Regions from separate parts of the Homo sapiens genome. Here region 2 is reported to be linked to region 1. The links are microRNA targets in miRTarBase. Many come from high-throughput screens and were not tested one by one. Region 1 holds a microRNA gene; the other region holds the end of a gene's coding sequence.

Evidence for each region. The annotated mature microRNA hsa-miR-7158-3p reads CUGAACUAGAGAUUGGGCCCA and lies in region 1 at 2,497-2,517, opposite strand. An mRNA with a match to its seed (bases 2 to 7 or 8) in the 3' UTR can be bound and repressed. Matches are read on the target gene's strand: a 7mer-m8 pairs with bases 2 to 8, a 7mer-A1 pairs with bases 2 to 7 and ends in A, and an 8mer does both.
Region 2: miRTarBase lists SEC14L3 as a target of hsa-miR-7158-3p. The part of its 3' UTR that is shown has no 7-base or 8-base seed match.

What each region holds. Positions count from the first base shown.
Region 1 is chr2:5,969,237-5,977,228 of GRCh38, reverse strand. MIR7158 (microRNA 7158) reads right to left here and starts at 2,567; the gene lies at 2,497-2,567. SILC1 (sciatic injury induced lincRNA upregulator of SOX11) reads right to left here. Exons shown (of 2, transcript NR_026832.1): 2 at 1-7,992. RefSeq lists enhancers at 966-1,619, 2,499-3,000.
Region 2 is chr22:30,453,399-30,460,398 of GRCh38, forward strand. It overlaps SEC14L3 (SEC14 like lipid binding 3), which reads right to left. Exons shown (of 12, transcript NM_174975.5): 12 at 5,831-6,744. The coding sequence ends at 6,623. Among named protein-coding and RNA genes, the nearest start is that of SEC14L3, 15 kb to the right of the region's middle.

The DNA.
Region 1 (7,992 bases):
TCTCATATTAGGTGAGATTGCTGCATGAAGGCAATACTTCTTTACAGAGTTTGCTGGCCACTGGTGAGCTAGACTACTTCTCTTCCTTTAGCTAGGATTGCATTTCTATTATTTTCAGAAATCAACAAAGTTTAAGACAGTAAGATCTCAGCATATAATCTCAATTCTTGTCATCAAATTATCTTACATCACTTATAAGATTCACCTCAATATTGTATCTAAATTTTCTCCTCTGAAAGCAGATGCCTTTTCTGCACAACAAAATGTTGACCTAGGCCTTACCTTGATAAAAGCTACCTCAAGCACCCTGAGGGCATTAGGAGGTGCAATAGGGACAATAAAGCTTGCTAATGTGATTGTGGGTGGCCTGGCAACTGGAGTGATGATGGGGAAAGCCTGGAAATCATTCCCTTCTGAGACCAGACAGCCTAAGCCGAAACCAGAGAAATGCATCACATACAAAGGAGGCAGCAGAGCTGTCTTCATAAATCGCAGCCTGTAGGCCTTTTAATGTGTCAGCGTAACCCGCCGTTAACGATATTTAATTGCTATCTACAGTAAGTTCCGTAGATCATTACCATACCAGTCATTTTTCAAAGATCCTCGTTAGCACAGGACTAGTGAACACAATAAACGATGTGACAGGAGATGGCTAGAGAAATGCTGCAGAGAATGAGCTCATGTAAGTCAGCCAGCTCATAGAGGAAACCCCCTATCTTTCTACTGGCACCATAATAAAATCCACCATGCACACTGGGCTATTTCCACTGCAGTGCATAAGACAAGAGAAATGGGTCACTATTGTGCTCCTGCTGGTTTCCTCTCCACCAATGCAGCTTGTTCCCTCACATAGTAAGGTGATGTCCACAATGCCTGGCTAGAACAGAAAAGATCTGACAACACCGATGTCCACACCTGAAGTGCCTGAAAATAGCACCTTCCTATGAACATTTAAGTTGGCAATCCATCCATTTGGGAGGTACATGTGTACTGTGAACCTACCCAGAACCAGGCACTTTGCTAAGGCATTGAGATTCAAGGTCAAGGGAGGCACAGTCCCCATGGACCTTGCAGCCGGGGACACAGCTAATGGACAGGAGACATTCATAGTCCAACTCACTTGCTTTATTTCAGTGACTTTATTTTCCATTTTGTTATTACCTTCTTTTTCAAGTCTCCTGTTGGAATTTGGATTATGTTACTTTATTTTTTCCTTTAAAATGCTTTTTGAATGATCAAAGGCCCATTTTAATCCCTCTATTGTCTGCAGCTCCTTAGAGGTGAATTCTCCTTTTACAGAGTCTGTTTGCCCTCAAGGTGATGAGTCTCCACAGGTGCTGGGGGCACACCTTCCTTAGGAATCATTCTCCCATGGAGTCTCAGAAATGCCTTGAGCTCTGCAGGCATCTTCACTGGAGCAATGATTTTTATGCTGGGCTTGAGACTTTTGGGTTGCAAGCTGTTCCACATCAGCTTTTACCTTAAATTCTTGCTCAGATTTTCCAAACAGCAAAGACAGTGTGAATGGAGGCCCCTTACACCAGCCACAGTTGGCGTTCTGACTCCTCTGTGTGACTCCTATCCCACACCAGGCCCAGTCCCAGCATTAGCTTTTGTGATGCATTCCTTGGTACAGAAGGCTAAGCATCGCTAATTTCTATTCAGAGACACAGGGACTCTACCCTTGTTCCTGGCTTTATAAAGCTGCTCAGTTCTAATGTGCACTGCACACAACAGCTGCCAGGGCCACAAACACCCCCAAGCAGACGTTAGGCTCTCAACCCCTAAGATACAGTTTTCCTCTCAATAGCTCATAAGACTCTGCCCTCTGACGTGAGAAAATAGAATTCTGTTGTGCTTTTTAAGTATGCCTATGGCATCTTTTAAAATATACCATATATGATCCAGTATTTCTTTGTGTTTGGAGTGTGAATCTGCAGGTGAAAGAGTGTGTTCTACACGTGCCCGATCCATCCTCATTACACAAATTCACCCTCTACTTTAAAACAGGGAATTTGGGCCTTTGACAGGAAAGAAGCCGGACAGTCATGGGGCCAAACTGGAATCAAATGTAAATATTTAATTTCCTCCTGTTAAAAGCAGAGTGGACCCACAGTCCCTCCCAAAGTAAAATGCACAATAATGTGTCAAGAGCCCTGGACTTATTGCTTCTCGGACGTTAGCAAAGATCAAGCGCAGACCACTGGCTTTGGGGTCTGATACCCCAGGAGAGTCCCGGTTTCGTGCTCATGTGTTATGTGACCCTTGACCCCTCGTTCAATTCTCACGTGCTTCACTCTCCTAAGCCATGCAAAAGGGACATAAGGATATCTCCTGAAAGCAGAGTCGGCTGGAAGGCTGGAAGGCTTATGTGAAGCAGTTGCATATCACTTAGCACTTAGAATGGGCAAATAAAAAATGGTTTAGCTTCTCCTTTGTGGGAACAGAGACTGGGATGGTTTGTATCCTGGCTCTCCTGAAACTGCGCTGCCGAGCTGGGCCCAATCTCTAGTTCAGCTCGCTTCAGAAAGCCAAAGGCAGAAGGCTGCAGGACCAGAGATTGAGCCTGGCCACACAGCCCCTTCTTCCTGATGCCACATGGCTGGTGATCCTGGTCACAGCCTGCCTGAGCTGGTGGAACACAGCTTTGTCGGACTGTTGAAGATAACCCTACAGAAAAATCACCTGGTGAAGGGCAAATGCGCATGTTTTGTCATAAGACCAACTGGGTTTCCTAAATCAGCCAAGCCGTTTATCCTGTGGTCTTGGCAACAGGCTGACCTTCCTTTTACAGAGGAGATGGTGATGCCTGGTCCCAGAGGAGCGCTGTGAGCACCCAGGCATGGATTACAGTGCTTAGCACAAAGTAACATTAAATGTGAATCTCTCTTCTAAAACTATGTTACAAAAAGCAGTAATTCATTCCAAGCAAGACTGTCAGTTTAGGTGAATCAAGTAATCATAATTTCTCTAAAACCTTTTTTCTACTGTAAAAGCTTTAATTTTTGTCTTTATTTTTATTGATACATCTTAGATGTGCATATTTTGGGAGTACATATGATAATTCAACACATTCATATAATCAAATCAGCATAATTGGGATATTTGTCACCTTAAATATTGATCTTTTCTTGATGCTATGAGCATTAGGTTAATGGGTACAAATGTACAGTTAGATAAAAAGAATAAGACCTGGTCTTCAATACATCATGGTGGCTATAGTTAACATTAACCATTGTACATTTCAAAATGCTAGAAGAGAATAATTCCAACACGTTTTTTGTTTGCTTACTTTTTTCTGAATTCTAATAGACTGATACATCAGTCCCTGCTGTAGCGAAAATAATGACTTCCTCAAAATGCACTTCAAGAATGTGACCTCAATGGATGTAACAGAAAGAACCTGCTCTTGGTGTTTGGGAAAGAAAAGGTGTTAGGCCCGCCACAATTCCTTCTCCTCCCAGGTGATTCAGAGTCCTGGAGGACAGAATACCTTGGGAACTTGAGTGAACTCCTTTCACCAGCCCAGCCTTGACTCAGATTCCAGCTCATATAGCTCACAAGCTCCACTGCCCAGGCCAAACCCCTCAAATGCTTAGGTTTTGTTTGTTTATTTGAAAGAGTTTTGCTCTTGTTGCCCAGGCTGGAGTGCAATGGCGCAATCTTGGCTCACTGCAACCTCCGCCTCCTGGGTTCAAGCGATTCTCCTGCATTAGCCTCCCGGGTAGCTGAGATTACAAGTACCCACCACCACGCCCGGCTAATTTTTTGTGTGTTTTTAGTAGAGACGGGGTCTCACCATGGTGGCCAGGCTGGTCTCAAACTCCTGACCTCAGGTGATCCGCCTGCCTCGGCCTCCCAAAGTGTTGGGATTACAGGCGTGAGCCACCACGCTCGGTCTAATGGTCAGGTTTTTATTCCTGTATATGTCAAGTAAGGACAATAAGAATTACTTCAAAGTGTTGTTAGGAGCTAATGCATGTAAAGCATTTATAAGAATTTTTGGCACCCAGCAGATGCTCAGAAACTTTTAGCTCATAATATTAGCATTGCTATAAAAATAACATTAATAAAAACCAACAACATTACTACCGTGAGAAAGTCATAATAATATACATCAAAGGATATTAATAATATACAATGACTTTCCCATATGCCATTTGTATGGCCAGAAAGCCAGACACAACTCCTGACTTCCTCCTGCGATTCAGACGACATTGCTTGGATGCAAACTTACCTGAAAGAACCACTTAATAGGTTTGTCACTCTAAGCAAATACTAGTGTTCAAGAAATGTTCTCAGGTGATCTAAAACACAGTCCAGAATACCTGCTTATGGCTTTTCAAATGTTTGCAATACAAGGCCTGCCTCTGTGCTCAGCTCCCAGAGAGAATTTTTCTAATAGATGCAGTTTTTCCTATTAGCAATGGAACATACACATTTGAAACCCAGCTGGCAGCCTCTATGATTGTAGGCTAAATCTCGTAAACAAAACTTAAATGTAAAGAAGTGTTTGTACTAGCTGCAAATGGGCTACTGGTTTGATGCCACAGGGGAAGTTGTTAGCAGGTGACATCAGAGGATGGATTAGTTAGGGTAACATTGTGAACCGAGAGACAGGAGAGATCTTGTCACTCACTGAAGGCGAGACTCTTCTAGAGAGTTGTTTTCTCCCCAAGATCTGCGCCTTTCCCCAGACTGAGTCAGGATCTCCGAGGTTAGGACCTAGCTACGTATATTTTGCACAAAGAACTCTGATTTGGACTCCAGGATTTAGAACCACAAATGTGCATACAGACCCAATTTTGTACATGGGAGGTGAGGTCAGATAGATAAAGTAACTTGCCAGCAGTCACTCATCTCACTAGTGTCACAGCTAGAATTAGAACCTATGGACTTTTGGTCCCTGGTTTGCAGCAGTTTCTGTAACACTAGTGGATATGAAACAACATGAAACACAAAGAACTGAGTCCTCGGAGGTGTGCAGCCCAGCAAAACTGAGCCTCTGGGTGGGAGTGGAGGGCAGCCAGAAAGAAAGGCCTGCGGTGGGTCTCTGCGTCTTAGATTTAGGAGGTAACCCCCACTGCCAGATGGTTTAGGTGATGGTGGCCGTGTGGGAGTGTGGTGATGGCTGGGGAAAATGACAAAGGCAATTCCCTTATGATAGCTGCTGAGGAGAGCAGTTGACACAACCCTGCTGCCATTTTTGACTCTTTCTTCACGAGTTGAGGATAAGGGGATATAACCGCAGCCACCAGCATGGAGATTCCCTAGGTTCTTAAACTTACAGGTTATTAAGGACATAAAGGGGTCTTCATGTATTCTAATGCCCTAATTTCACAGGAGAAGAGACAGTCTCAGGGAAGGCAGGTGGCTTGTTCAGTTTCAATCAGCCAGCAACTGGCAGAGCTGAAACTAGAACTCAGGTCTTAGGGCTCCAGTTCTGTAACTCATCCATCACACAAAATAATTATAATAGCATGTGCCCATGTGGCCTGGACATGGCCTGTAGTCAGTGCCATAGATAGGGATGGATGAGACCCACTGCCTCTAAGGCATGCAGTCCTATTGGCTCCTTCCTGCAGCAGTCCCTGGACCACCAGGTTCAGAAACACCTGGGTCTGTGCTCACATGCAAAGTACTGGGCCTGCCCCAGATTTACTGACTCAGAGCCCCTGCAGGTGAGGCCAGGGAAACTGGCTCAGCAGGTGATACCTGGGTACTCCAACATCTGAGAAACCCCGAGATAAGACCTCCAAGTTCTGGGATATTGTGGGGCTCTGTTGAACAACAGAAGGTGTAACGTACAAGAAAGACTGACCTAAAAGTGGCATCAATTATTTCATTGAAGAATCATCAATTGAGTGCCTACTGGCTTATAGTGCCCACTGTTCACTATGCTGGGAACAGAAGTCAACAAGCCAACCACATTCCAGCTGTGAAGGAATGCATCCGGACAGCCATAGAAGGCCCTGGATGCCTGGTGCCTGGGCTGGGGTATGTGCCAGGTAAAGAAGGGTGTGGATGTCAGAGAAGAACAACTCTTGACAGTGCCCAGGAAGGGCAGCTGCTCCTCGGAAGCAGGGCTCATGGAGCCATGTTGCTATGGATACAAACAGTGTCTGGTTACTTATGGGAACACTATTGTTAGGATGGTTCTGAAATGCTTTTGTCCTGAAGGTGGAGAACTCACCAGACCAAATTACTCTTGGCTAAGGTGGTTAACCCTCTACTCATACGATGTCCTGGGGCAACAGTGCAACCTCAAAAAATATTAAATAAGACCAAACTATGGAGACAATAAAAAGATCAGTGGTTGTCAGGGGCTGAGGGAGCAAGGGGATGAAGGAGTAAGTATCAGTGGAGCACAGAGGATTTTAGGGCAGTGAAACTCGTCTGTATGATACTAAAATGGTGGAGTCATGTCATTATACATTTGTCCAAATGCCTGGAATGTACAACACCAAGAGTGAACCCTGGCGTCAACTATGAACTCATTGTGATGATGATGTGTCAGTGTAGGATCATCAATTATAAAAAGTGTACCACTCTGGGAAGAAATGTTGATAATGAGGGAGACATGTTTGTTGGAGAGGCAGGAAGAATATGGAAAATCTCTGTGCCTTCCACTCAGTTTTGCTAATAATAAAACTAATAATAATAAATAATATGAAATTATTAAATAATATTAATATTAAAATAATATTATTATAAACTAATAATAATAAAACTAATTTTTTTCTGACATCTCTGTCGTCCAGGCTGGAGTGCAGTGGTGCAATCATGGCTTACTCAATCGCCATCTCTTAGGCTCAATGGATCCTCCCACTTCAGCCTCCGAAGTAGCTGGGACTACAGGCATGCGCCACCACACCTGGCTATTTTTTTTTTTAATTTTTTAGAGACAGAGTCTCACTATGTTGCCCAAGCTGATCTTGAAATCTTGGCCTCAAATGATCCTCCCACTTCAGTCCTCAAAGCGTTGAGATGATAGGCATGACCCATGGTGCCTGACCTTAAAAAGTCTTTCAAAAAAAAATTAAATATTTCTAAACTGTTTTTTAAAATAAGTTGTCTCACGGTGTATAAAAGTTATACTATCAAAAGTCAACTTTTGGTAAATGAAGGCTGCCAGATTGATTAGAAATTAGAAGGGGTTTGTCACTGAATCTGGTAAACTCAGAGCAACCACCACCTCTCTCTAAGCCTCTAACCATCTGGATTAGGAAGGAGAGAGGTGGGCTGCTAGAATCCCTTTCTTCAAGCTCTGATGTTCCAAGACAAGGATAATTGCTGATGAGAAAAAAAAAATCAGAATCTCACAGACTGCAAAAGCAGAACAGCACAGTTTCCACAAAACCATACAAATGTACTTTTTGGAACATAAGAGCCAAGCACATGCAACAGCTTAGGGTCCGTAACTCAGCATATGTAAAGTTCGTAAATTAATGTAATAGGAGGCAGGGTAACATCTGTTCTGTAGTACCCAACAGAGGGGATTTGGATATTTGAGAAGAGGCTCTGCACATAGTAAAGTCAGCCTAGGAACATGTGAGCAGTATTTACAGTGAAAAGGTCCCCATCTCTAACTATACACATCTGCTCCAAGACAGCTGAGGCTGGCGGTGCAGACCCCACTGAAGGGAAAGCCCCTTCCGAGGAAGTGGCCTGCTAACAAATCAAAATGGAGCCATCTGCCCTTCCCACTGCATGCGCTCCACCAGCCACCTATTCGTGCTCACCAGCTGGCAGCCTGCCCTGGCCCCGGCATGTGCCTGCCCCCAGTGGGCAGGGCCATGACAAAGCCACTGCTGGTCACCATTAGTGGTCAAGTCTCATGGTGGGTTTATTGAAGAACGTTTGCTTAATTTTAGATCAAAGCAGTACTTTCTTCTCCCTCTGGAAAAAACAAAACACACAAATAGTATATTGGAGCAACGAAGAACATAATCAAGTTTATGTATGGGCCACTACGAAACTGAATAGTTACCT
Region 2 (7,000 bases), not on the chromosome of region 1:
GCCACAGCCTCCTTTCATTTATTTATTTTTTTGAAATGGAGTCTCGCTCCGTTGCCCAGGCTGGGGTGCAATGGCGCAATCTCAGCTCACTGCAACCTCCACCTCCCGAGTCCAAGTGATTGTCCTGCCTTAGCCTCCCGAGTAGGTAGGATTACAGGCATGCACCACCACGCCCAGCTAATTCTTGTATTTTTAGTAGAGGCAGGGTTTCATCATGTTGGCCAGGCTGGTCTCAAACTCCCGACCTCAAATGATCCACCCACCTCGGCCTCCCGAAGTGCTGGGATTACAGGCGTGAGCCGCCGTGCCCAGCCCAGCCTGCTTTTAGCAGCTGAACACAGGCCTGCCTTGGGAAGTTAATGGCCGTGGAAGAATTTTCCTCCTTCCAAGCAGGAAAGGGAGGAGAGATAGGGCTGACAGCTTACTCTCTTCAGAGTTTCCTGGGGAAGGGGACACCTATATGGTGGCCCGGCCCTGCTGAAGGTCAAGATGCTATAGTGTTATGGTTTAAAGGTAGGTGCAGGGTCTAGGGGGCCTAGGCACTAACAGAACTAATCTCTCCTCCCCCCAACTGCTGTCCAGGTTCATGGATAGTCATGCTTGGTCTTGTCTTACTGTTCTTTCTGGTCTCAGCCATACCCTTGCTTCCCCAGGCACTCCTGGCCTTTGTTTTCCTACCTCTGGACTCACCCTAGCTGTCCTGTACAACCTGCCCCGCACCTCTGGGCAGTCCTGGGGTGCTCTTGGACCTCTCCTTCCCAGCCTCCTGCAAGATGCTGAAGGACTTTTTGCTGGTTGCACTGGCCTTCACTGGTGTCACTCTGTTGCTGCTCCTGTGACCCTGAGGAAGGCACTCGAGGTCTTCCAGCCATCCTGCCCTCTCTGCAGCTTAAGAGGCTCTGTTTTGGTGCCCTGCCAGCTGGGAGGCCCACAAGATGGGGCTGGTGACTTGCGCAACAGAGAGACTCTCTTCTGAGGAGGAAATTGATATGGAATCTCAGTCTATTTTGGAGGAAGACCTGGAGGCAGTGGCCCCTTCAGAAGACAACGAAAAAATAACCCTTGTTTCTCTCTCTATATAATCTATAATAATATTATTATATATAATCTATAATAATATTATTATATATAATCTATAATAATATTATATATAATCTATAATAATATTATATATAATCTATAATAATATTATTATATATAATCTATAATATTATTAGATATAATCTATAATATTATTAGATATAATCTATAATATTACTATATATAATCTATAATATTATTATATAATCTATAATCCATAATATATATTATTATATATAATCTATAATCTATAATATATAATAATATTATTATATATAATATATAATATATAATATATTATTATATATTATATATTATTGTATATTATATATTTTATATATTATAATATAATATATAATAATATATAATATATTATATTATTATATAATACATAATATATTATTATATATTATATAATAGATATATAATATATTATTATATATTATATAATAGATATATAATATATTATTATATATCATATAATAGATATATAATATATTATTATATATTATATATTATATAATAGATGTATAATATATTATATATAATATATTATATTATATAATAGATATACAATATATTATATATAATATATAATATATTAAATATTTAATATATAATATATTTAATATTTAATATTTAATATATATTATATTTAATATTTAATATATATTATATTTAATATTTAATATATTATATTTAATATTTAATATATAATATAAATTAATATAAATATTAAATAATATAATATATAATATTTAATATATTATATATAATATATTATATATATTTGAGACGGAGTCTCTGTCGCCCAGGCTGGAGTGCAGTGATGTGACCTCGGCTCACTGCAACCTCCACTTCCCAGGTTCAAGTGATTGTCCTGCCTCAGTCTCCTAGGTAGCTGGGATTACAGGCATGCACCACCACGCCCAGCTAATTTTTATATTTTTGTAGAGATAGGGTTTCACCATGTTGCCAGGCTGGTCTTGAACTGACCTCAAGTGGTCCAGCTGCCTCAGCCTCCCAAAGTGCTGGAATTACAGGCACGAGCCACTGCACCTGGCCTGTGTTGCCTTAACCTTGTGCTTTTTGGTACTAGTTGTTAGGGGAAAAACCTGATGTCTTAACTTTGTGACATGCATTTGTGGTCTCTGAAGGGGCCAGTGTGGTGGTGGGTTCTTGGGGAAGGAGTAAGAGGCAGGGCTGGGGCCTCATTAGCACCAGCATAGTGTTGCCCACCGGTGTCCCTGGCCTGAGGTCTACACGGTTGGGAGCCTCGCCTTTTGGCCTCAGCAGAAATTTGACTCCTCTATGGGAAATGGCCTGTGGCCACCAACTCTAGCTTCCCAAGAACAGTGAGACTTTTCCTTCCCTGGCTCTGCCTTGGCATTTCTGGGCTGTTGGAACAGGAACTTCTAAGTTAACTTTCCTTCTCACACAATGGGGGGCCTGCAGGCCTTGGTTTTCCTGCCCTATGCTGCTAGCTTATCACTTCTGGAATGAGGGGGCTGTGTTAGTCCATTTTGTGTTACTATAAAGGAATATTGGGCCAGGTAAGGTGGCTCACGCTTGTAATCCCAGCACTTCGGGAGGCCAAGGTGTGTGGATCACCTGAAGCCACGAGTTCAAGACCAACATGGTGAAACTCCATCTCTACTAAAAATACAAAAATTAGCCAGGCATGGTGGCAGGCACATGTGTTCCCTGCTACTTGGGAGGTTGAGGTGGGAGAATTGCTTTAACCCAGGAGGTGGAGGTTGCAGTGAGCCTAGATTGCACCACTGCATTCCTGCCTGGGCGACAGAGTGAGACCCTGTCTCCAAAAAAAAAAAAAAAAAAACAAACACCAAACACGAAAAAAGGAATATTGGAAGCTGGGTAATTTACAAAGAAAAGAGGTTTACTTGGCTCATTGTTCTGCAGGATGTACAGAAAGCATGGTGCCGGCATCTGCTCAGCTTCTGGTGAGGGCTTCAGGAAGCGTTTACTCATAGCAGAAGAGGAAGGGGAGCCAGCGTGTCACATGGTGAGAGGAAGGGAGCAAGAAGAGGGGAGGGGTGCCAGCCTCTTTTAAGCAATTGTAGAATAAGAACTCACTCATTATGGCGGGCAGGCACCAAGCCATTCATGAAGGATCTACCGCCATGACCCAAACACCTCCCACTAGGCCCCACCTCCAACATCGGGGGCCACATTTCCTCCTGAGATTTGGAGGGGACAAATATCCAAACTCTATTAGTGACCATTGGCCAAAGCTACAAAGTGGGTCTCTTTCCTTCCCCAATGCTGCCTCCTGGAGATTCAGGACTGGAGCTGAGCATCTAGACCCTGAGTAAGACTGGAGGCTAGAAGCTGGAGCTTGGGAAGCCTGCCTCTTACTGGCTGTGTGCACACAGTGGGAGCTGGCTTGCCAGGGGTGGGCATCAGCGGATGCTGATGGGCACTTTGCAGATCTCAGCTCTGGCCCTGGCCTTAGGTTCTTTGCACTGCTCCACCTCCTGGTGCAAGTCCCCTCCACTCAGCTGCCACAGAGGAGCTCTGGCAACAGCACTGCTCATCTTAGTCCCAAAGGCACAAAGGGTCCACACTCTCTACCTCAGACCCTGCTTCAACATCGAGGCCTTTCCTTTGGTGGTCAAGGGTGAGACCACCCTGTCCCCCGACCCTGCATCACCCACACTAAGCCATCCTCTCCCAAGGATTCCATGACATCATTGGCCCAAATTGTGGGTGCTGCCACCGTCTTCCAAGAAGGTGAACCCATCCCCCTCTTTCCATCCTCCTCCCTTTCCTCTCTCTTCCCTCCATCTTCCCTCATTGGTAGGATTGTCAGATAAAATATAAGATGCATAGGTCAATTTTAATTTTAGATAAACAATGGATACATTTTAAGTATGTCTTTTTTTTTTTTTTTTTTTTTTTTAGATGGAGTCTTGCTCTGTTGCTCAGGCTGGAGTGCAGTGGTGTGATCTCAGCCCACTGCAATCTCCACCTCCTGGATTCAAGAGATTCTCATGCCTCAGCCTTCTGAGGAGCTGAGATTACAGGTATGTGCTACCTCCCCAGGCTAAATTTTGTATTTTTAGTAGAGACGGGGTTTCACCACATTGGCCAAGCTGGTCTCGAACTCCTGACGTCAAGTGATCCGCCTGCCTTGGCCTCCTAAAGTGTTGGGATTATAGGCATGAGCCACTGCACCTGGCCATGCTTTTTTTTTTTTTTCCTTTCTAAATCTGACAACCCTCATTTTCTCTTCTCTTCCTTCCTTTTTCCTTTCTCCTTCCTCCTCCCTCCTCCTTCCCTGCCAGCTCAGGAAGAAGGCAGTCTTGTCCCATTCTGACAAATTGTTATAGAAGAGTGGTGGGGGTGAAGAGGTGACGGGGTAAGGGGCAGCCTTAGCTCCAGGACTATTTCTGTCACCTGTAGGCTGAAGATACAAGGCCAGTGCCTTTGGGAGCTCAGTTTCCCATCTATAAAGCAGATATCAGATTTTGCACCCATAAGTGCATGTGGGAAAGTGCTTGCTGCTGCTGAATATTTGCTTGACTAGCCTGAGTCAGACCTCATAGCCTGCCCACGGATGAGCTCAGCCCTCCGTTTGTTTGTTTCCAAGGAGCCTCTCATGGCACCAGCCTTTGGTTCCCATTCATCCCCATTCCCGGGTGTGATCCGGCTCCCCTGGCAAGAGTTGTGTCAGGGACTGGGGCTCAAGCCAGCCTCTTCACGTCCCCGAATCACAGCAGAAAGTTGGGAAGGAAACTCTGGAGTCCTGGCCTTTGCCCTAGTCACCCAGGGTCATGGTGAGCGTCAGGGGGTTGTGCTTCACAGATGCCATGTGAGCAGCGGACAGGATGCTGAGCTGAGGAACACAAGCCCTGCCCCACTCTGCTGTGAATTTCCTTGGACAAGCTGCTTCAGTATTGTGGGTCTCTATGGCCTATCACCTCCTCTACCCACAAACAGGGACTGGAGAGGGTGACATGCAGGACACTTCTACTGGAAGGTCTAGAACAAATAAATCATGCCTTCTCACTGCCTTTGTAAAAGTGGAATCTTAGGAGGTCATATTCTTACTATATTAAATTTTTTTGATAGAGATGTGGTCTTACTATGTTGCCCAGGCTGGTCTAAAACTCCTGGGCTCAAGCGATCCGCCCATCTCAGCCTCCCCAAGGGCTGGGATTATAGGCAGGAGGCGGTATTACAAGGCAACTGAGAGCAATGTCATTGGAGTAAACAAAGCAAAAACAGGCCAGGCATGGTGGCTGAGGCCTGTTATCCCAGCACTTTGGGAGGCTGATGGGGGGTAAATCACTTGAGGCCAGGAGCTTGAGACAACATGGGGAAACCCCATCTCTACAAAAAAATACAAAAAAATTAGCCAAGTGTGGTGATGCCCACCTGTAGTCCCAGCTACTCAGGAGGCTGAGGTGGGAGAATGGCTTGAGCCCAAGAGGTCAAGACTGCAGTGAGCCATGATTGTACCACTGCACTCCAGCCTGGGTGGGCGACAGAGCGAGACCCTGTCTCAAAAAACAAACAAACAAACAAATAAACAAACAAACGAACACCCCCTGCCCCAGGTCCTGGATCTGCCACCCAAGCTGTAAGATGTTGAGTGAGTAGCTTCACCCCTCTGAGCCTCCATTTCCTTATCCATAAAGGGCCTTGGGGATGGCATGAGAATAAAACATGCTAAACTCACAAAGCTCTTGGCACAGTTTCTGGTACACAGAGAGCACTCGCCAAATGATAGTTGTTTTCTTTATTATGATTATGCCAGATGTGACTGCCTTTGCTTCCAGGAAAGTCCCTAAAACATAAGCTATGTGCAACAAGGGAAGTGGGTTAGGGTGGGAAGCTGAGCGTGCAAGTCAGACAAAGCCTGATGTAGGCAGCTCCTATCAGAGGCATGTGGCCTTTGTGGCTGGGGCCCTCAAAAGACAGCCACTGCCAGAAATCTGGAGACTGAATTGTCTGGGTCTCCAGAAGAGAGTCCAACCCCACCACACATCTGCTCCTGTCCAAGGTGCTGAAATCCACCCCACATAGGCTCCTCCTAATCATGTACAGCTGTTGAGTCACCTGCACCCTACCTTCTGGTCCTCCATTCAATGCCACAAATATACACTGAGCATCTACTATATATAGGGAGTGGAAGTAAAAAGGATTTAGATATGTCTCCAACCCAAGTTGCTCACAGCCATACGGAAGGAATTCAAGCATACACACCTGCCTTAGGGTAGGTGAGGACAAAGGCTAGGGGATTCATTTTGCTATTTATTGAGTTTCATGACACCCACTTCTTGCCTTTACCCTTGCTTTTTCCTCTTCTGCAACCTTGGTACCCTCCAAGGTTGTGCCTCTCATACCTTTCTTGATCTGACCACAGTAGATGAGTTTTCCCCAGGGCATCTCTTTCTGTACTCACTAACGTCACAGAGTCAGGAGGACTAACAATCAATTTCAGGGAGGGAGGGAGTGTAGGATATAAACAGAGAAATCAAAGGGTTAGGAGGTCTCTGAGAAATGAGGGAGCCACCTAGACAGGGGTGAGCTCCTTATCATATTTCTGCATGCCCTCGTCAGGGAGCAGGACCTCCACTGTGAAGCTGACCTTCTTGGCGTGGACAAAGCTATAGGTGTTGTCGAAGCGTAGGACATCTGGGGGACAGATGGAAAGAGGGGCATTGGGCTTGGCTTTACACACTCTTTTTTCCACCCCTGGCCATGGAGGAGGACAGGCTTGTGTTCCCACTGGCTTTGTTTGCCAAGCTGGGCCAAGCTCCCACCACGCCTCTTCCCTTCCCCATGGGAACTGCCAACCCAAGCAGGTCCTGTAAACAGACACCAACCTCCTCTTGGCATGTGCCCAGGCATGGCTTTACTGGCATCGAGAACAATGGTCATTACATCCCAT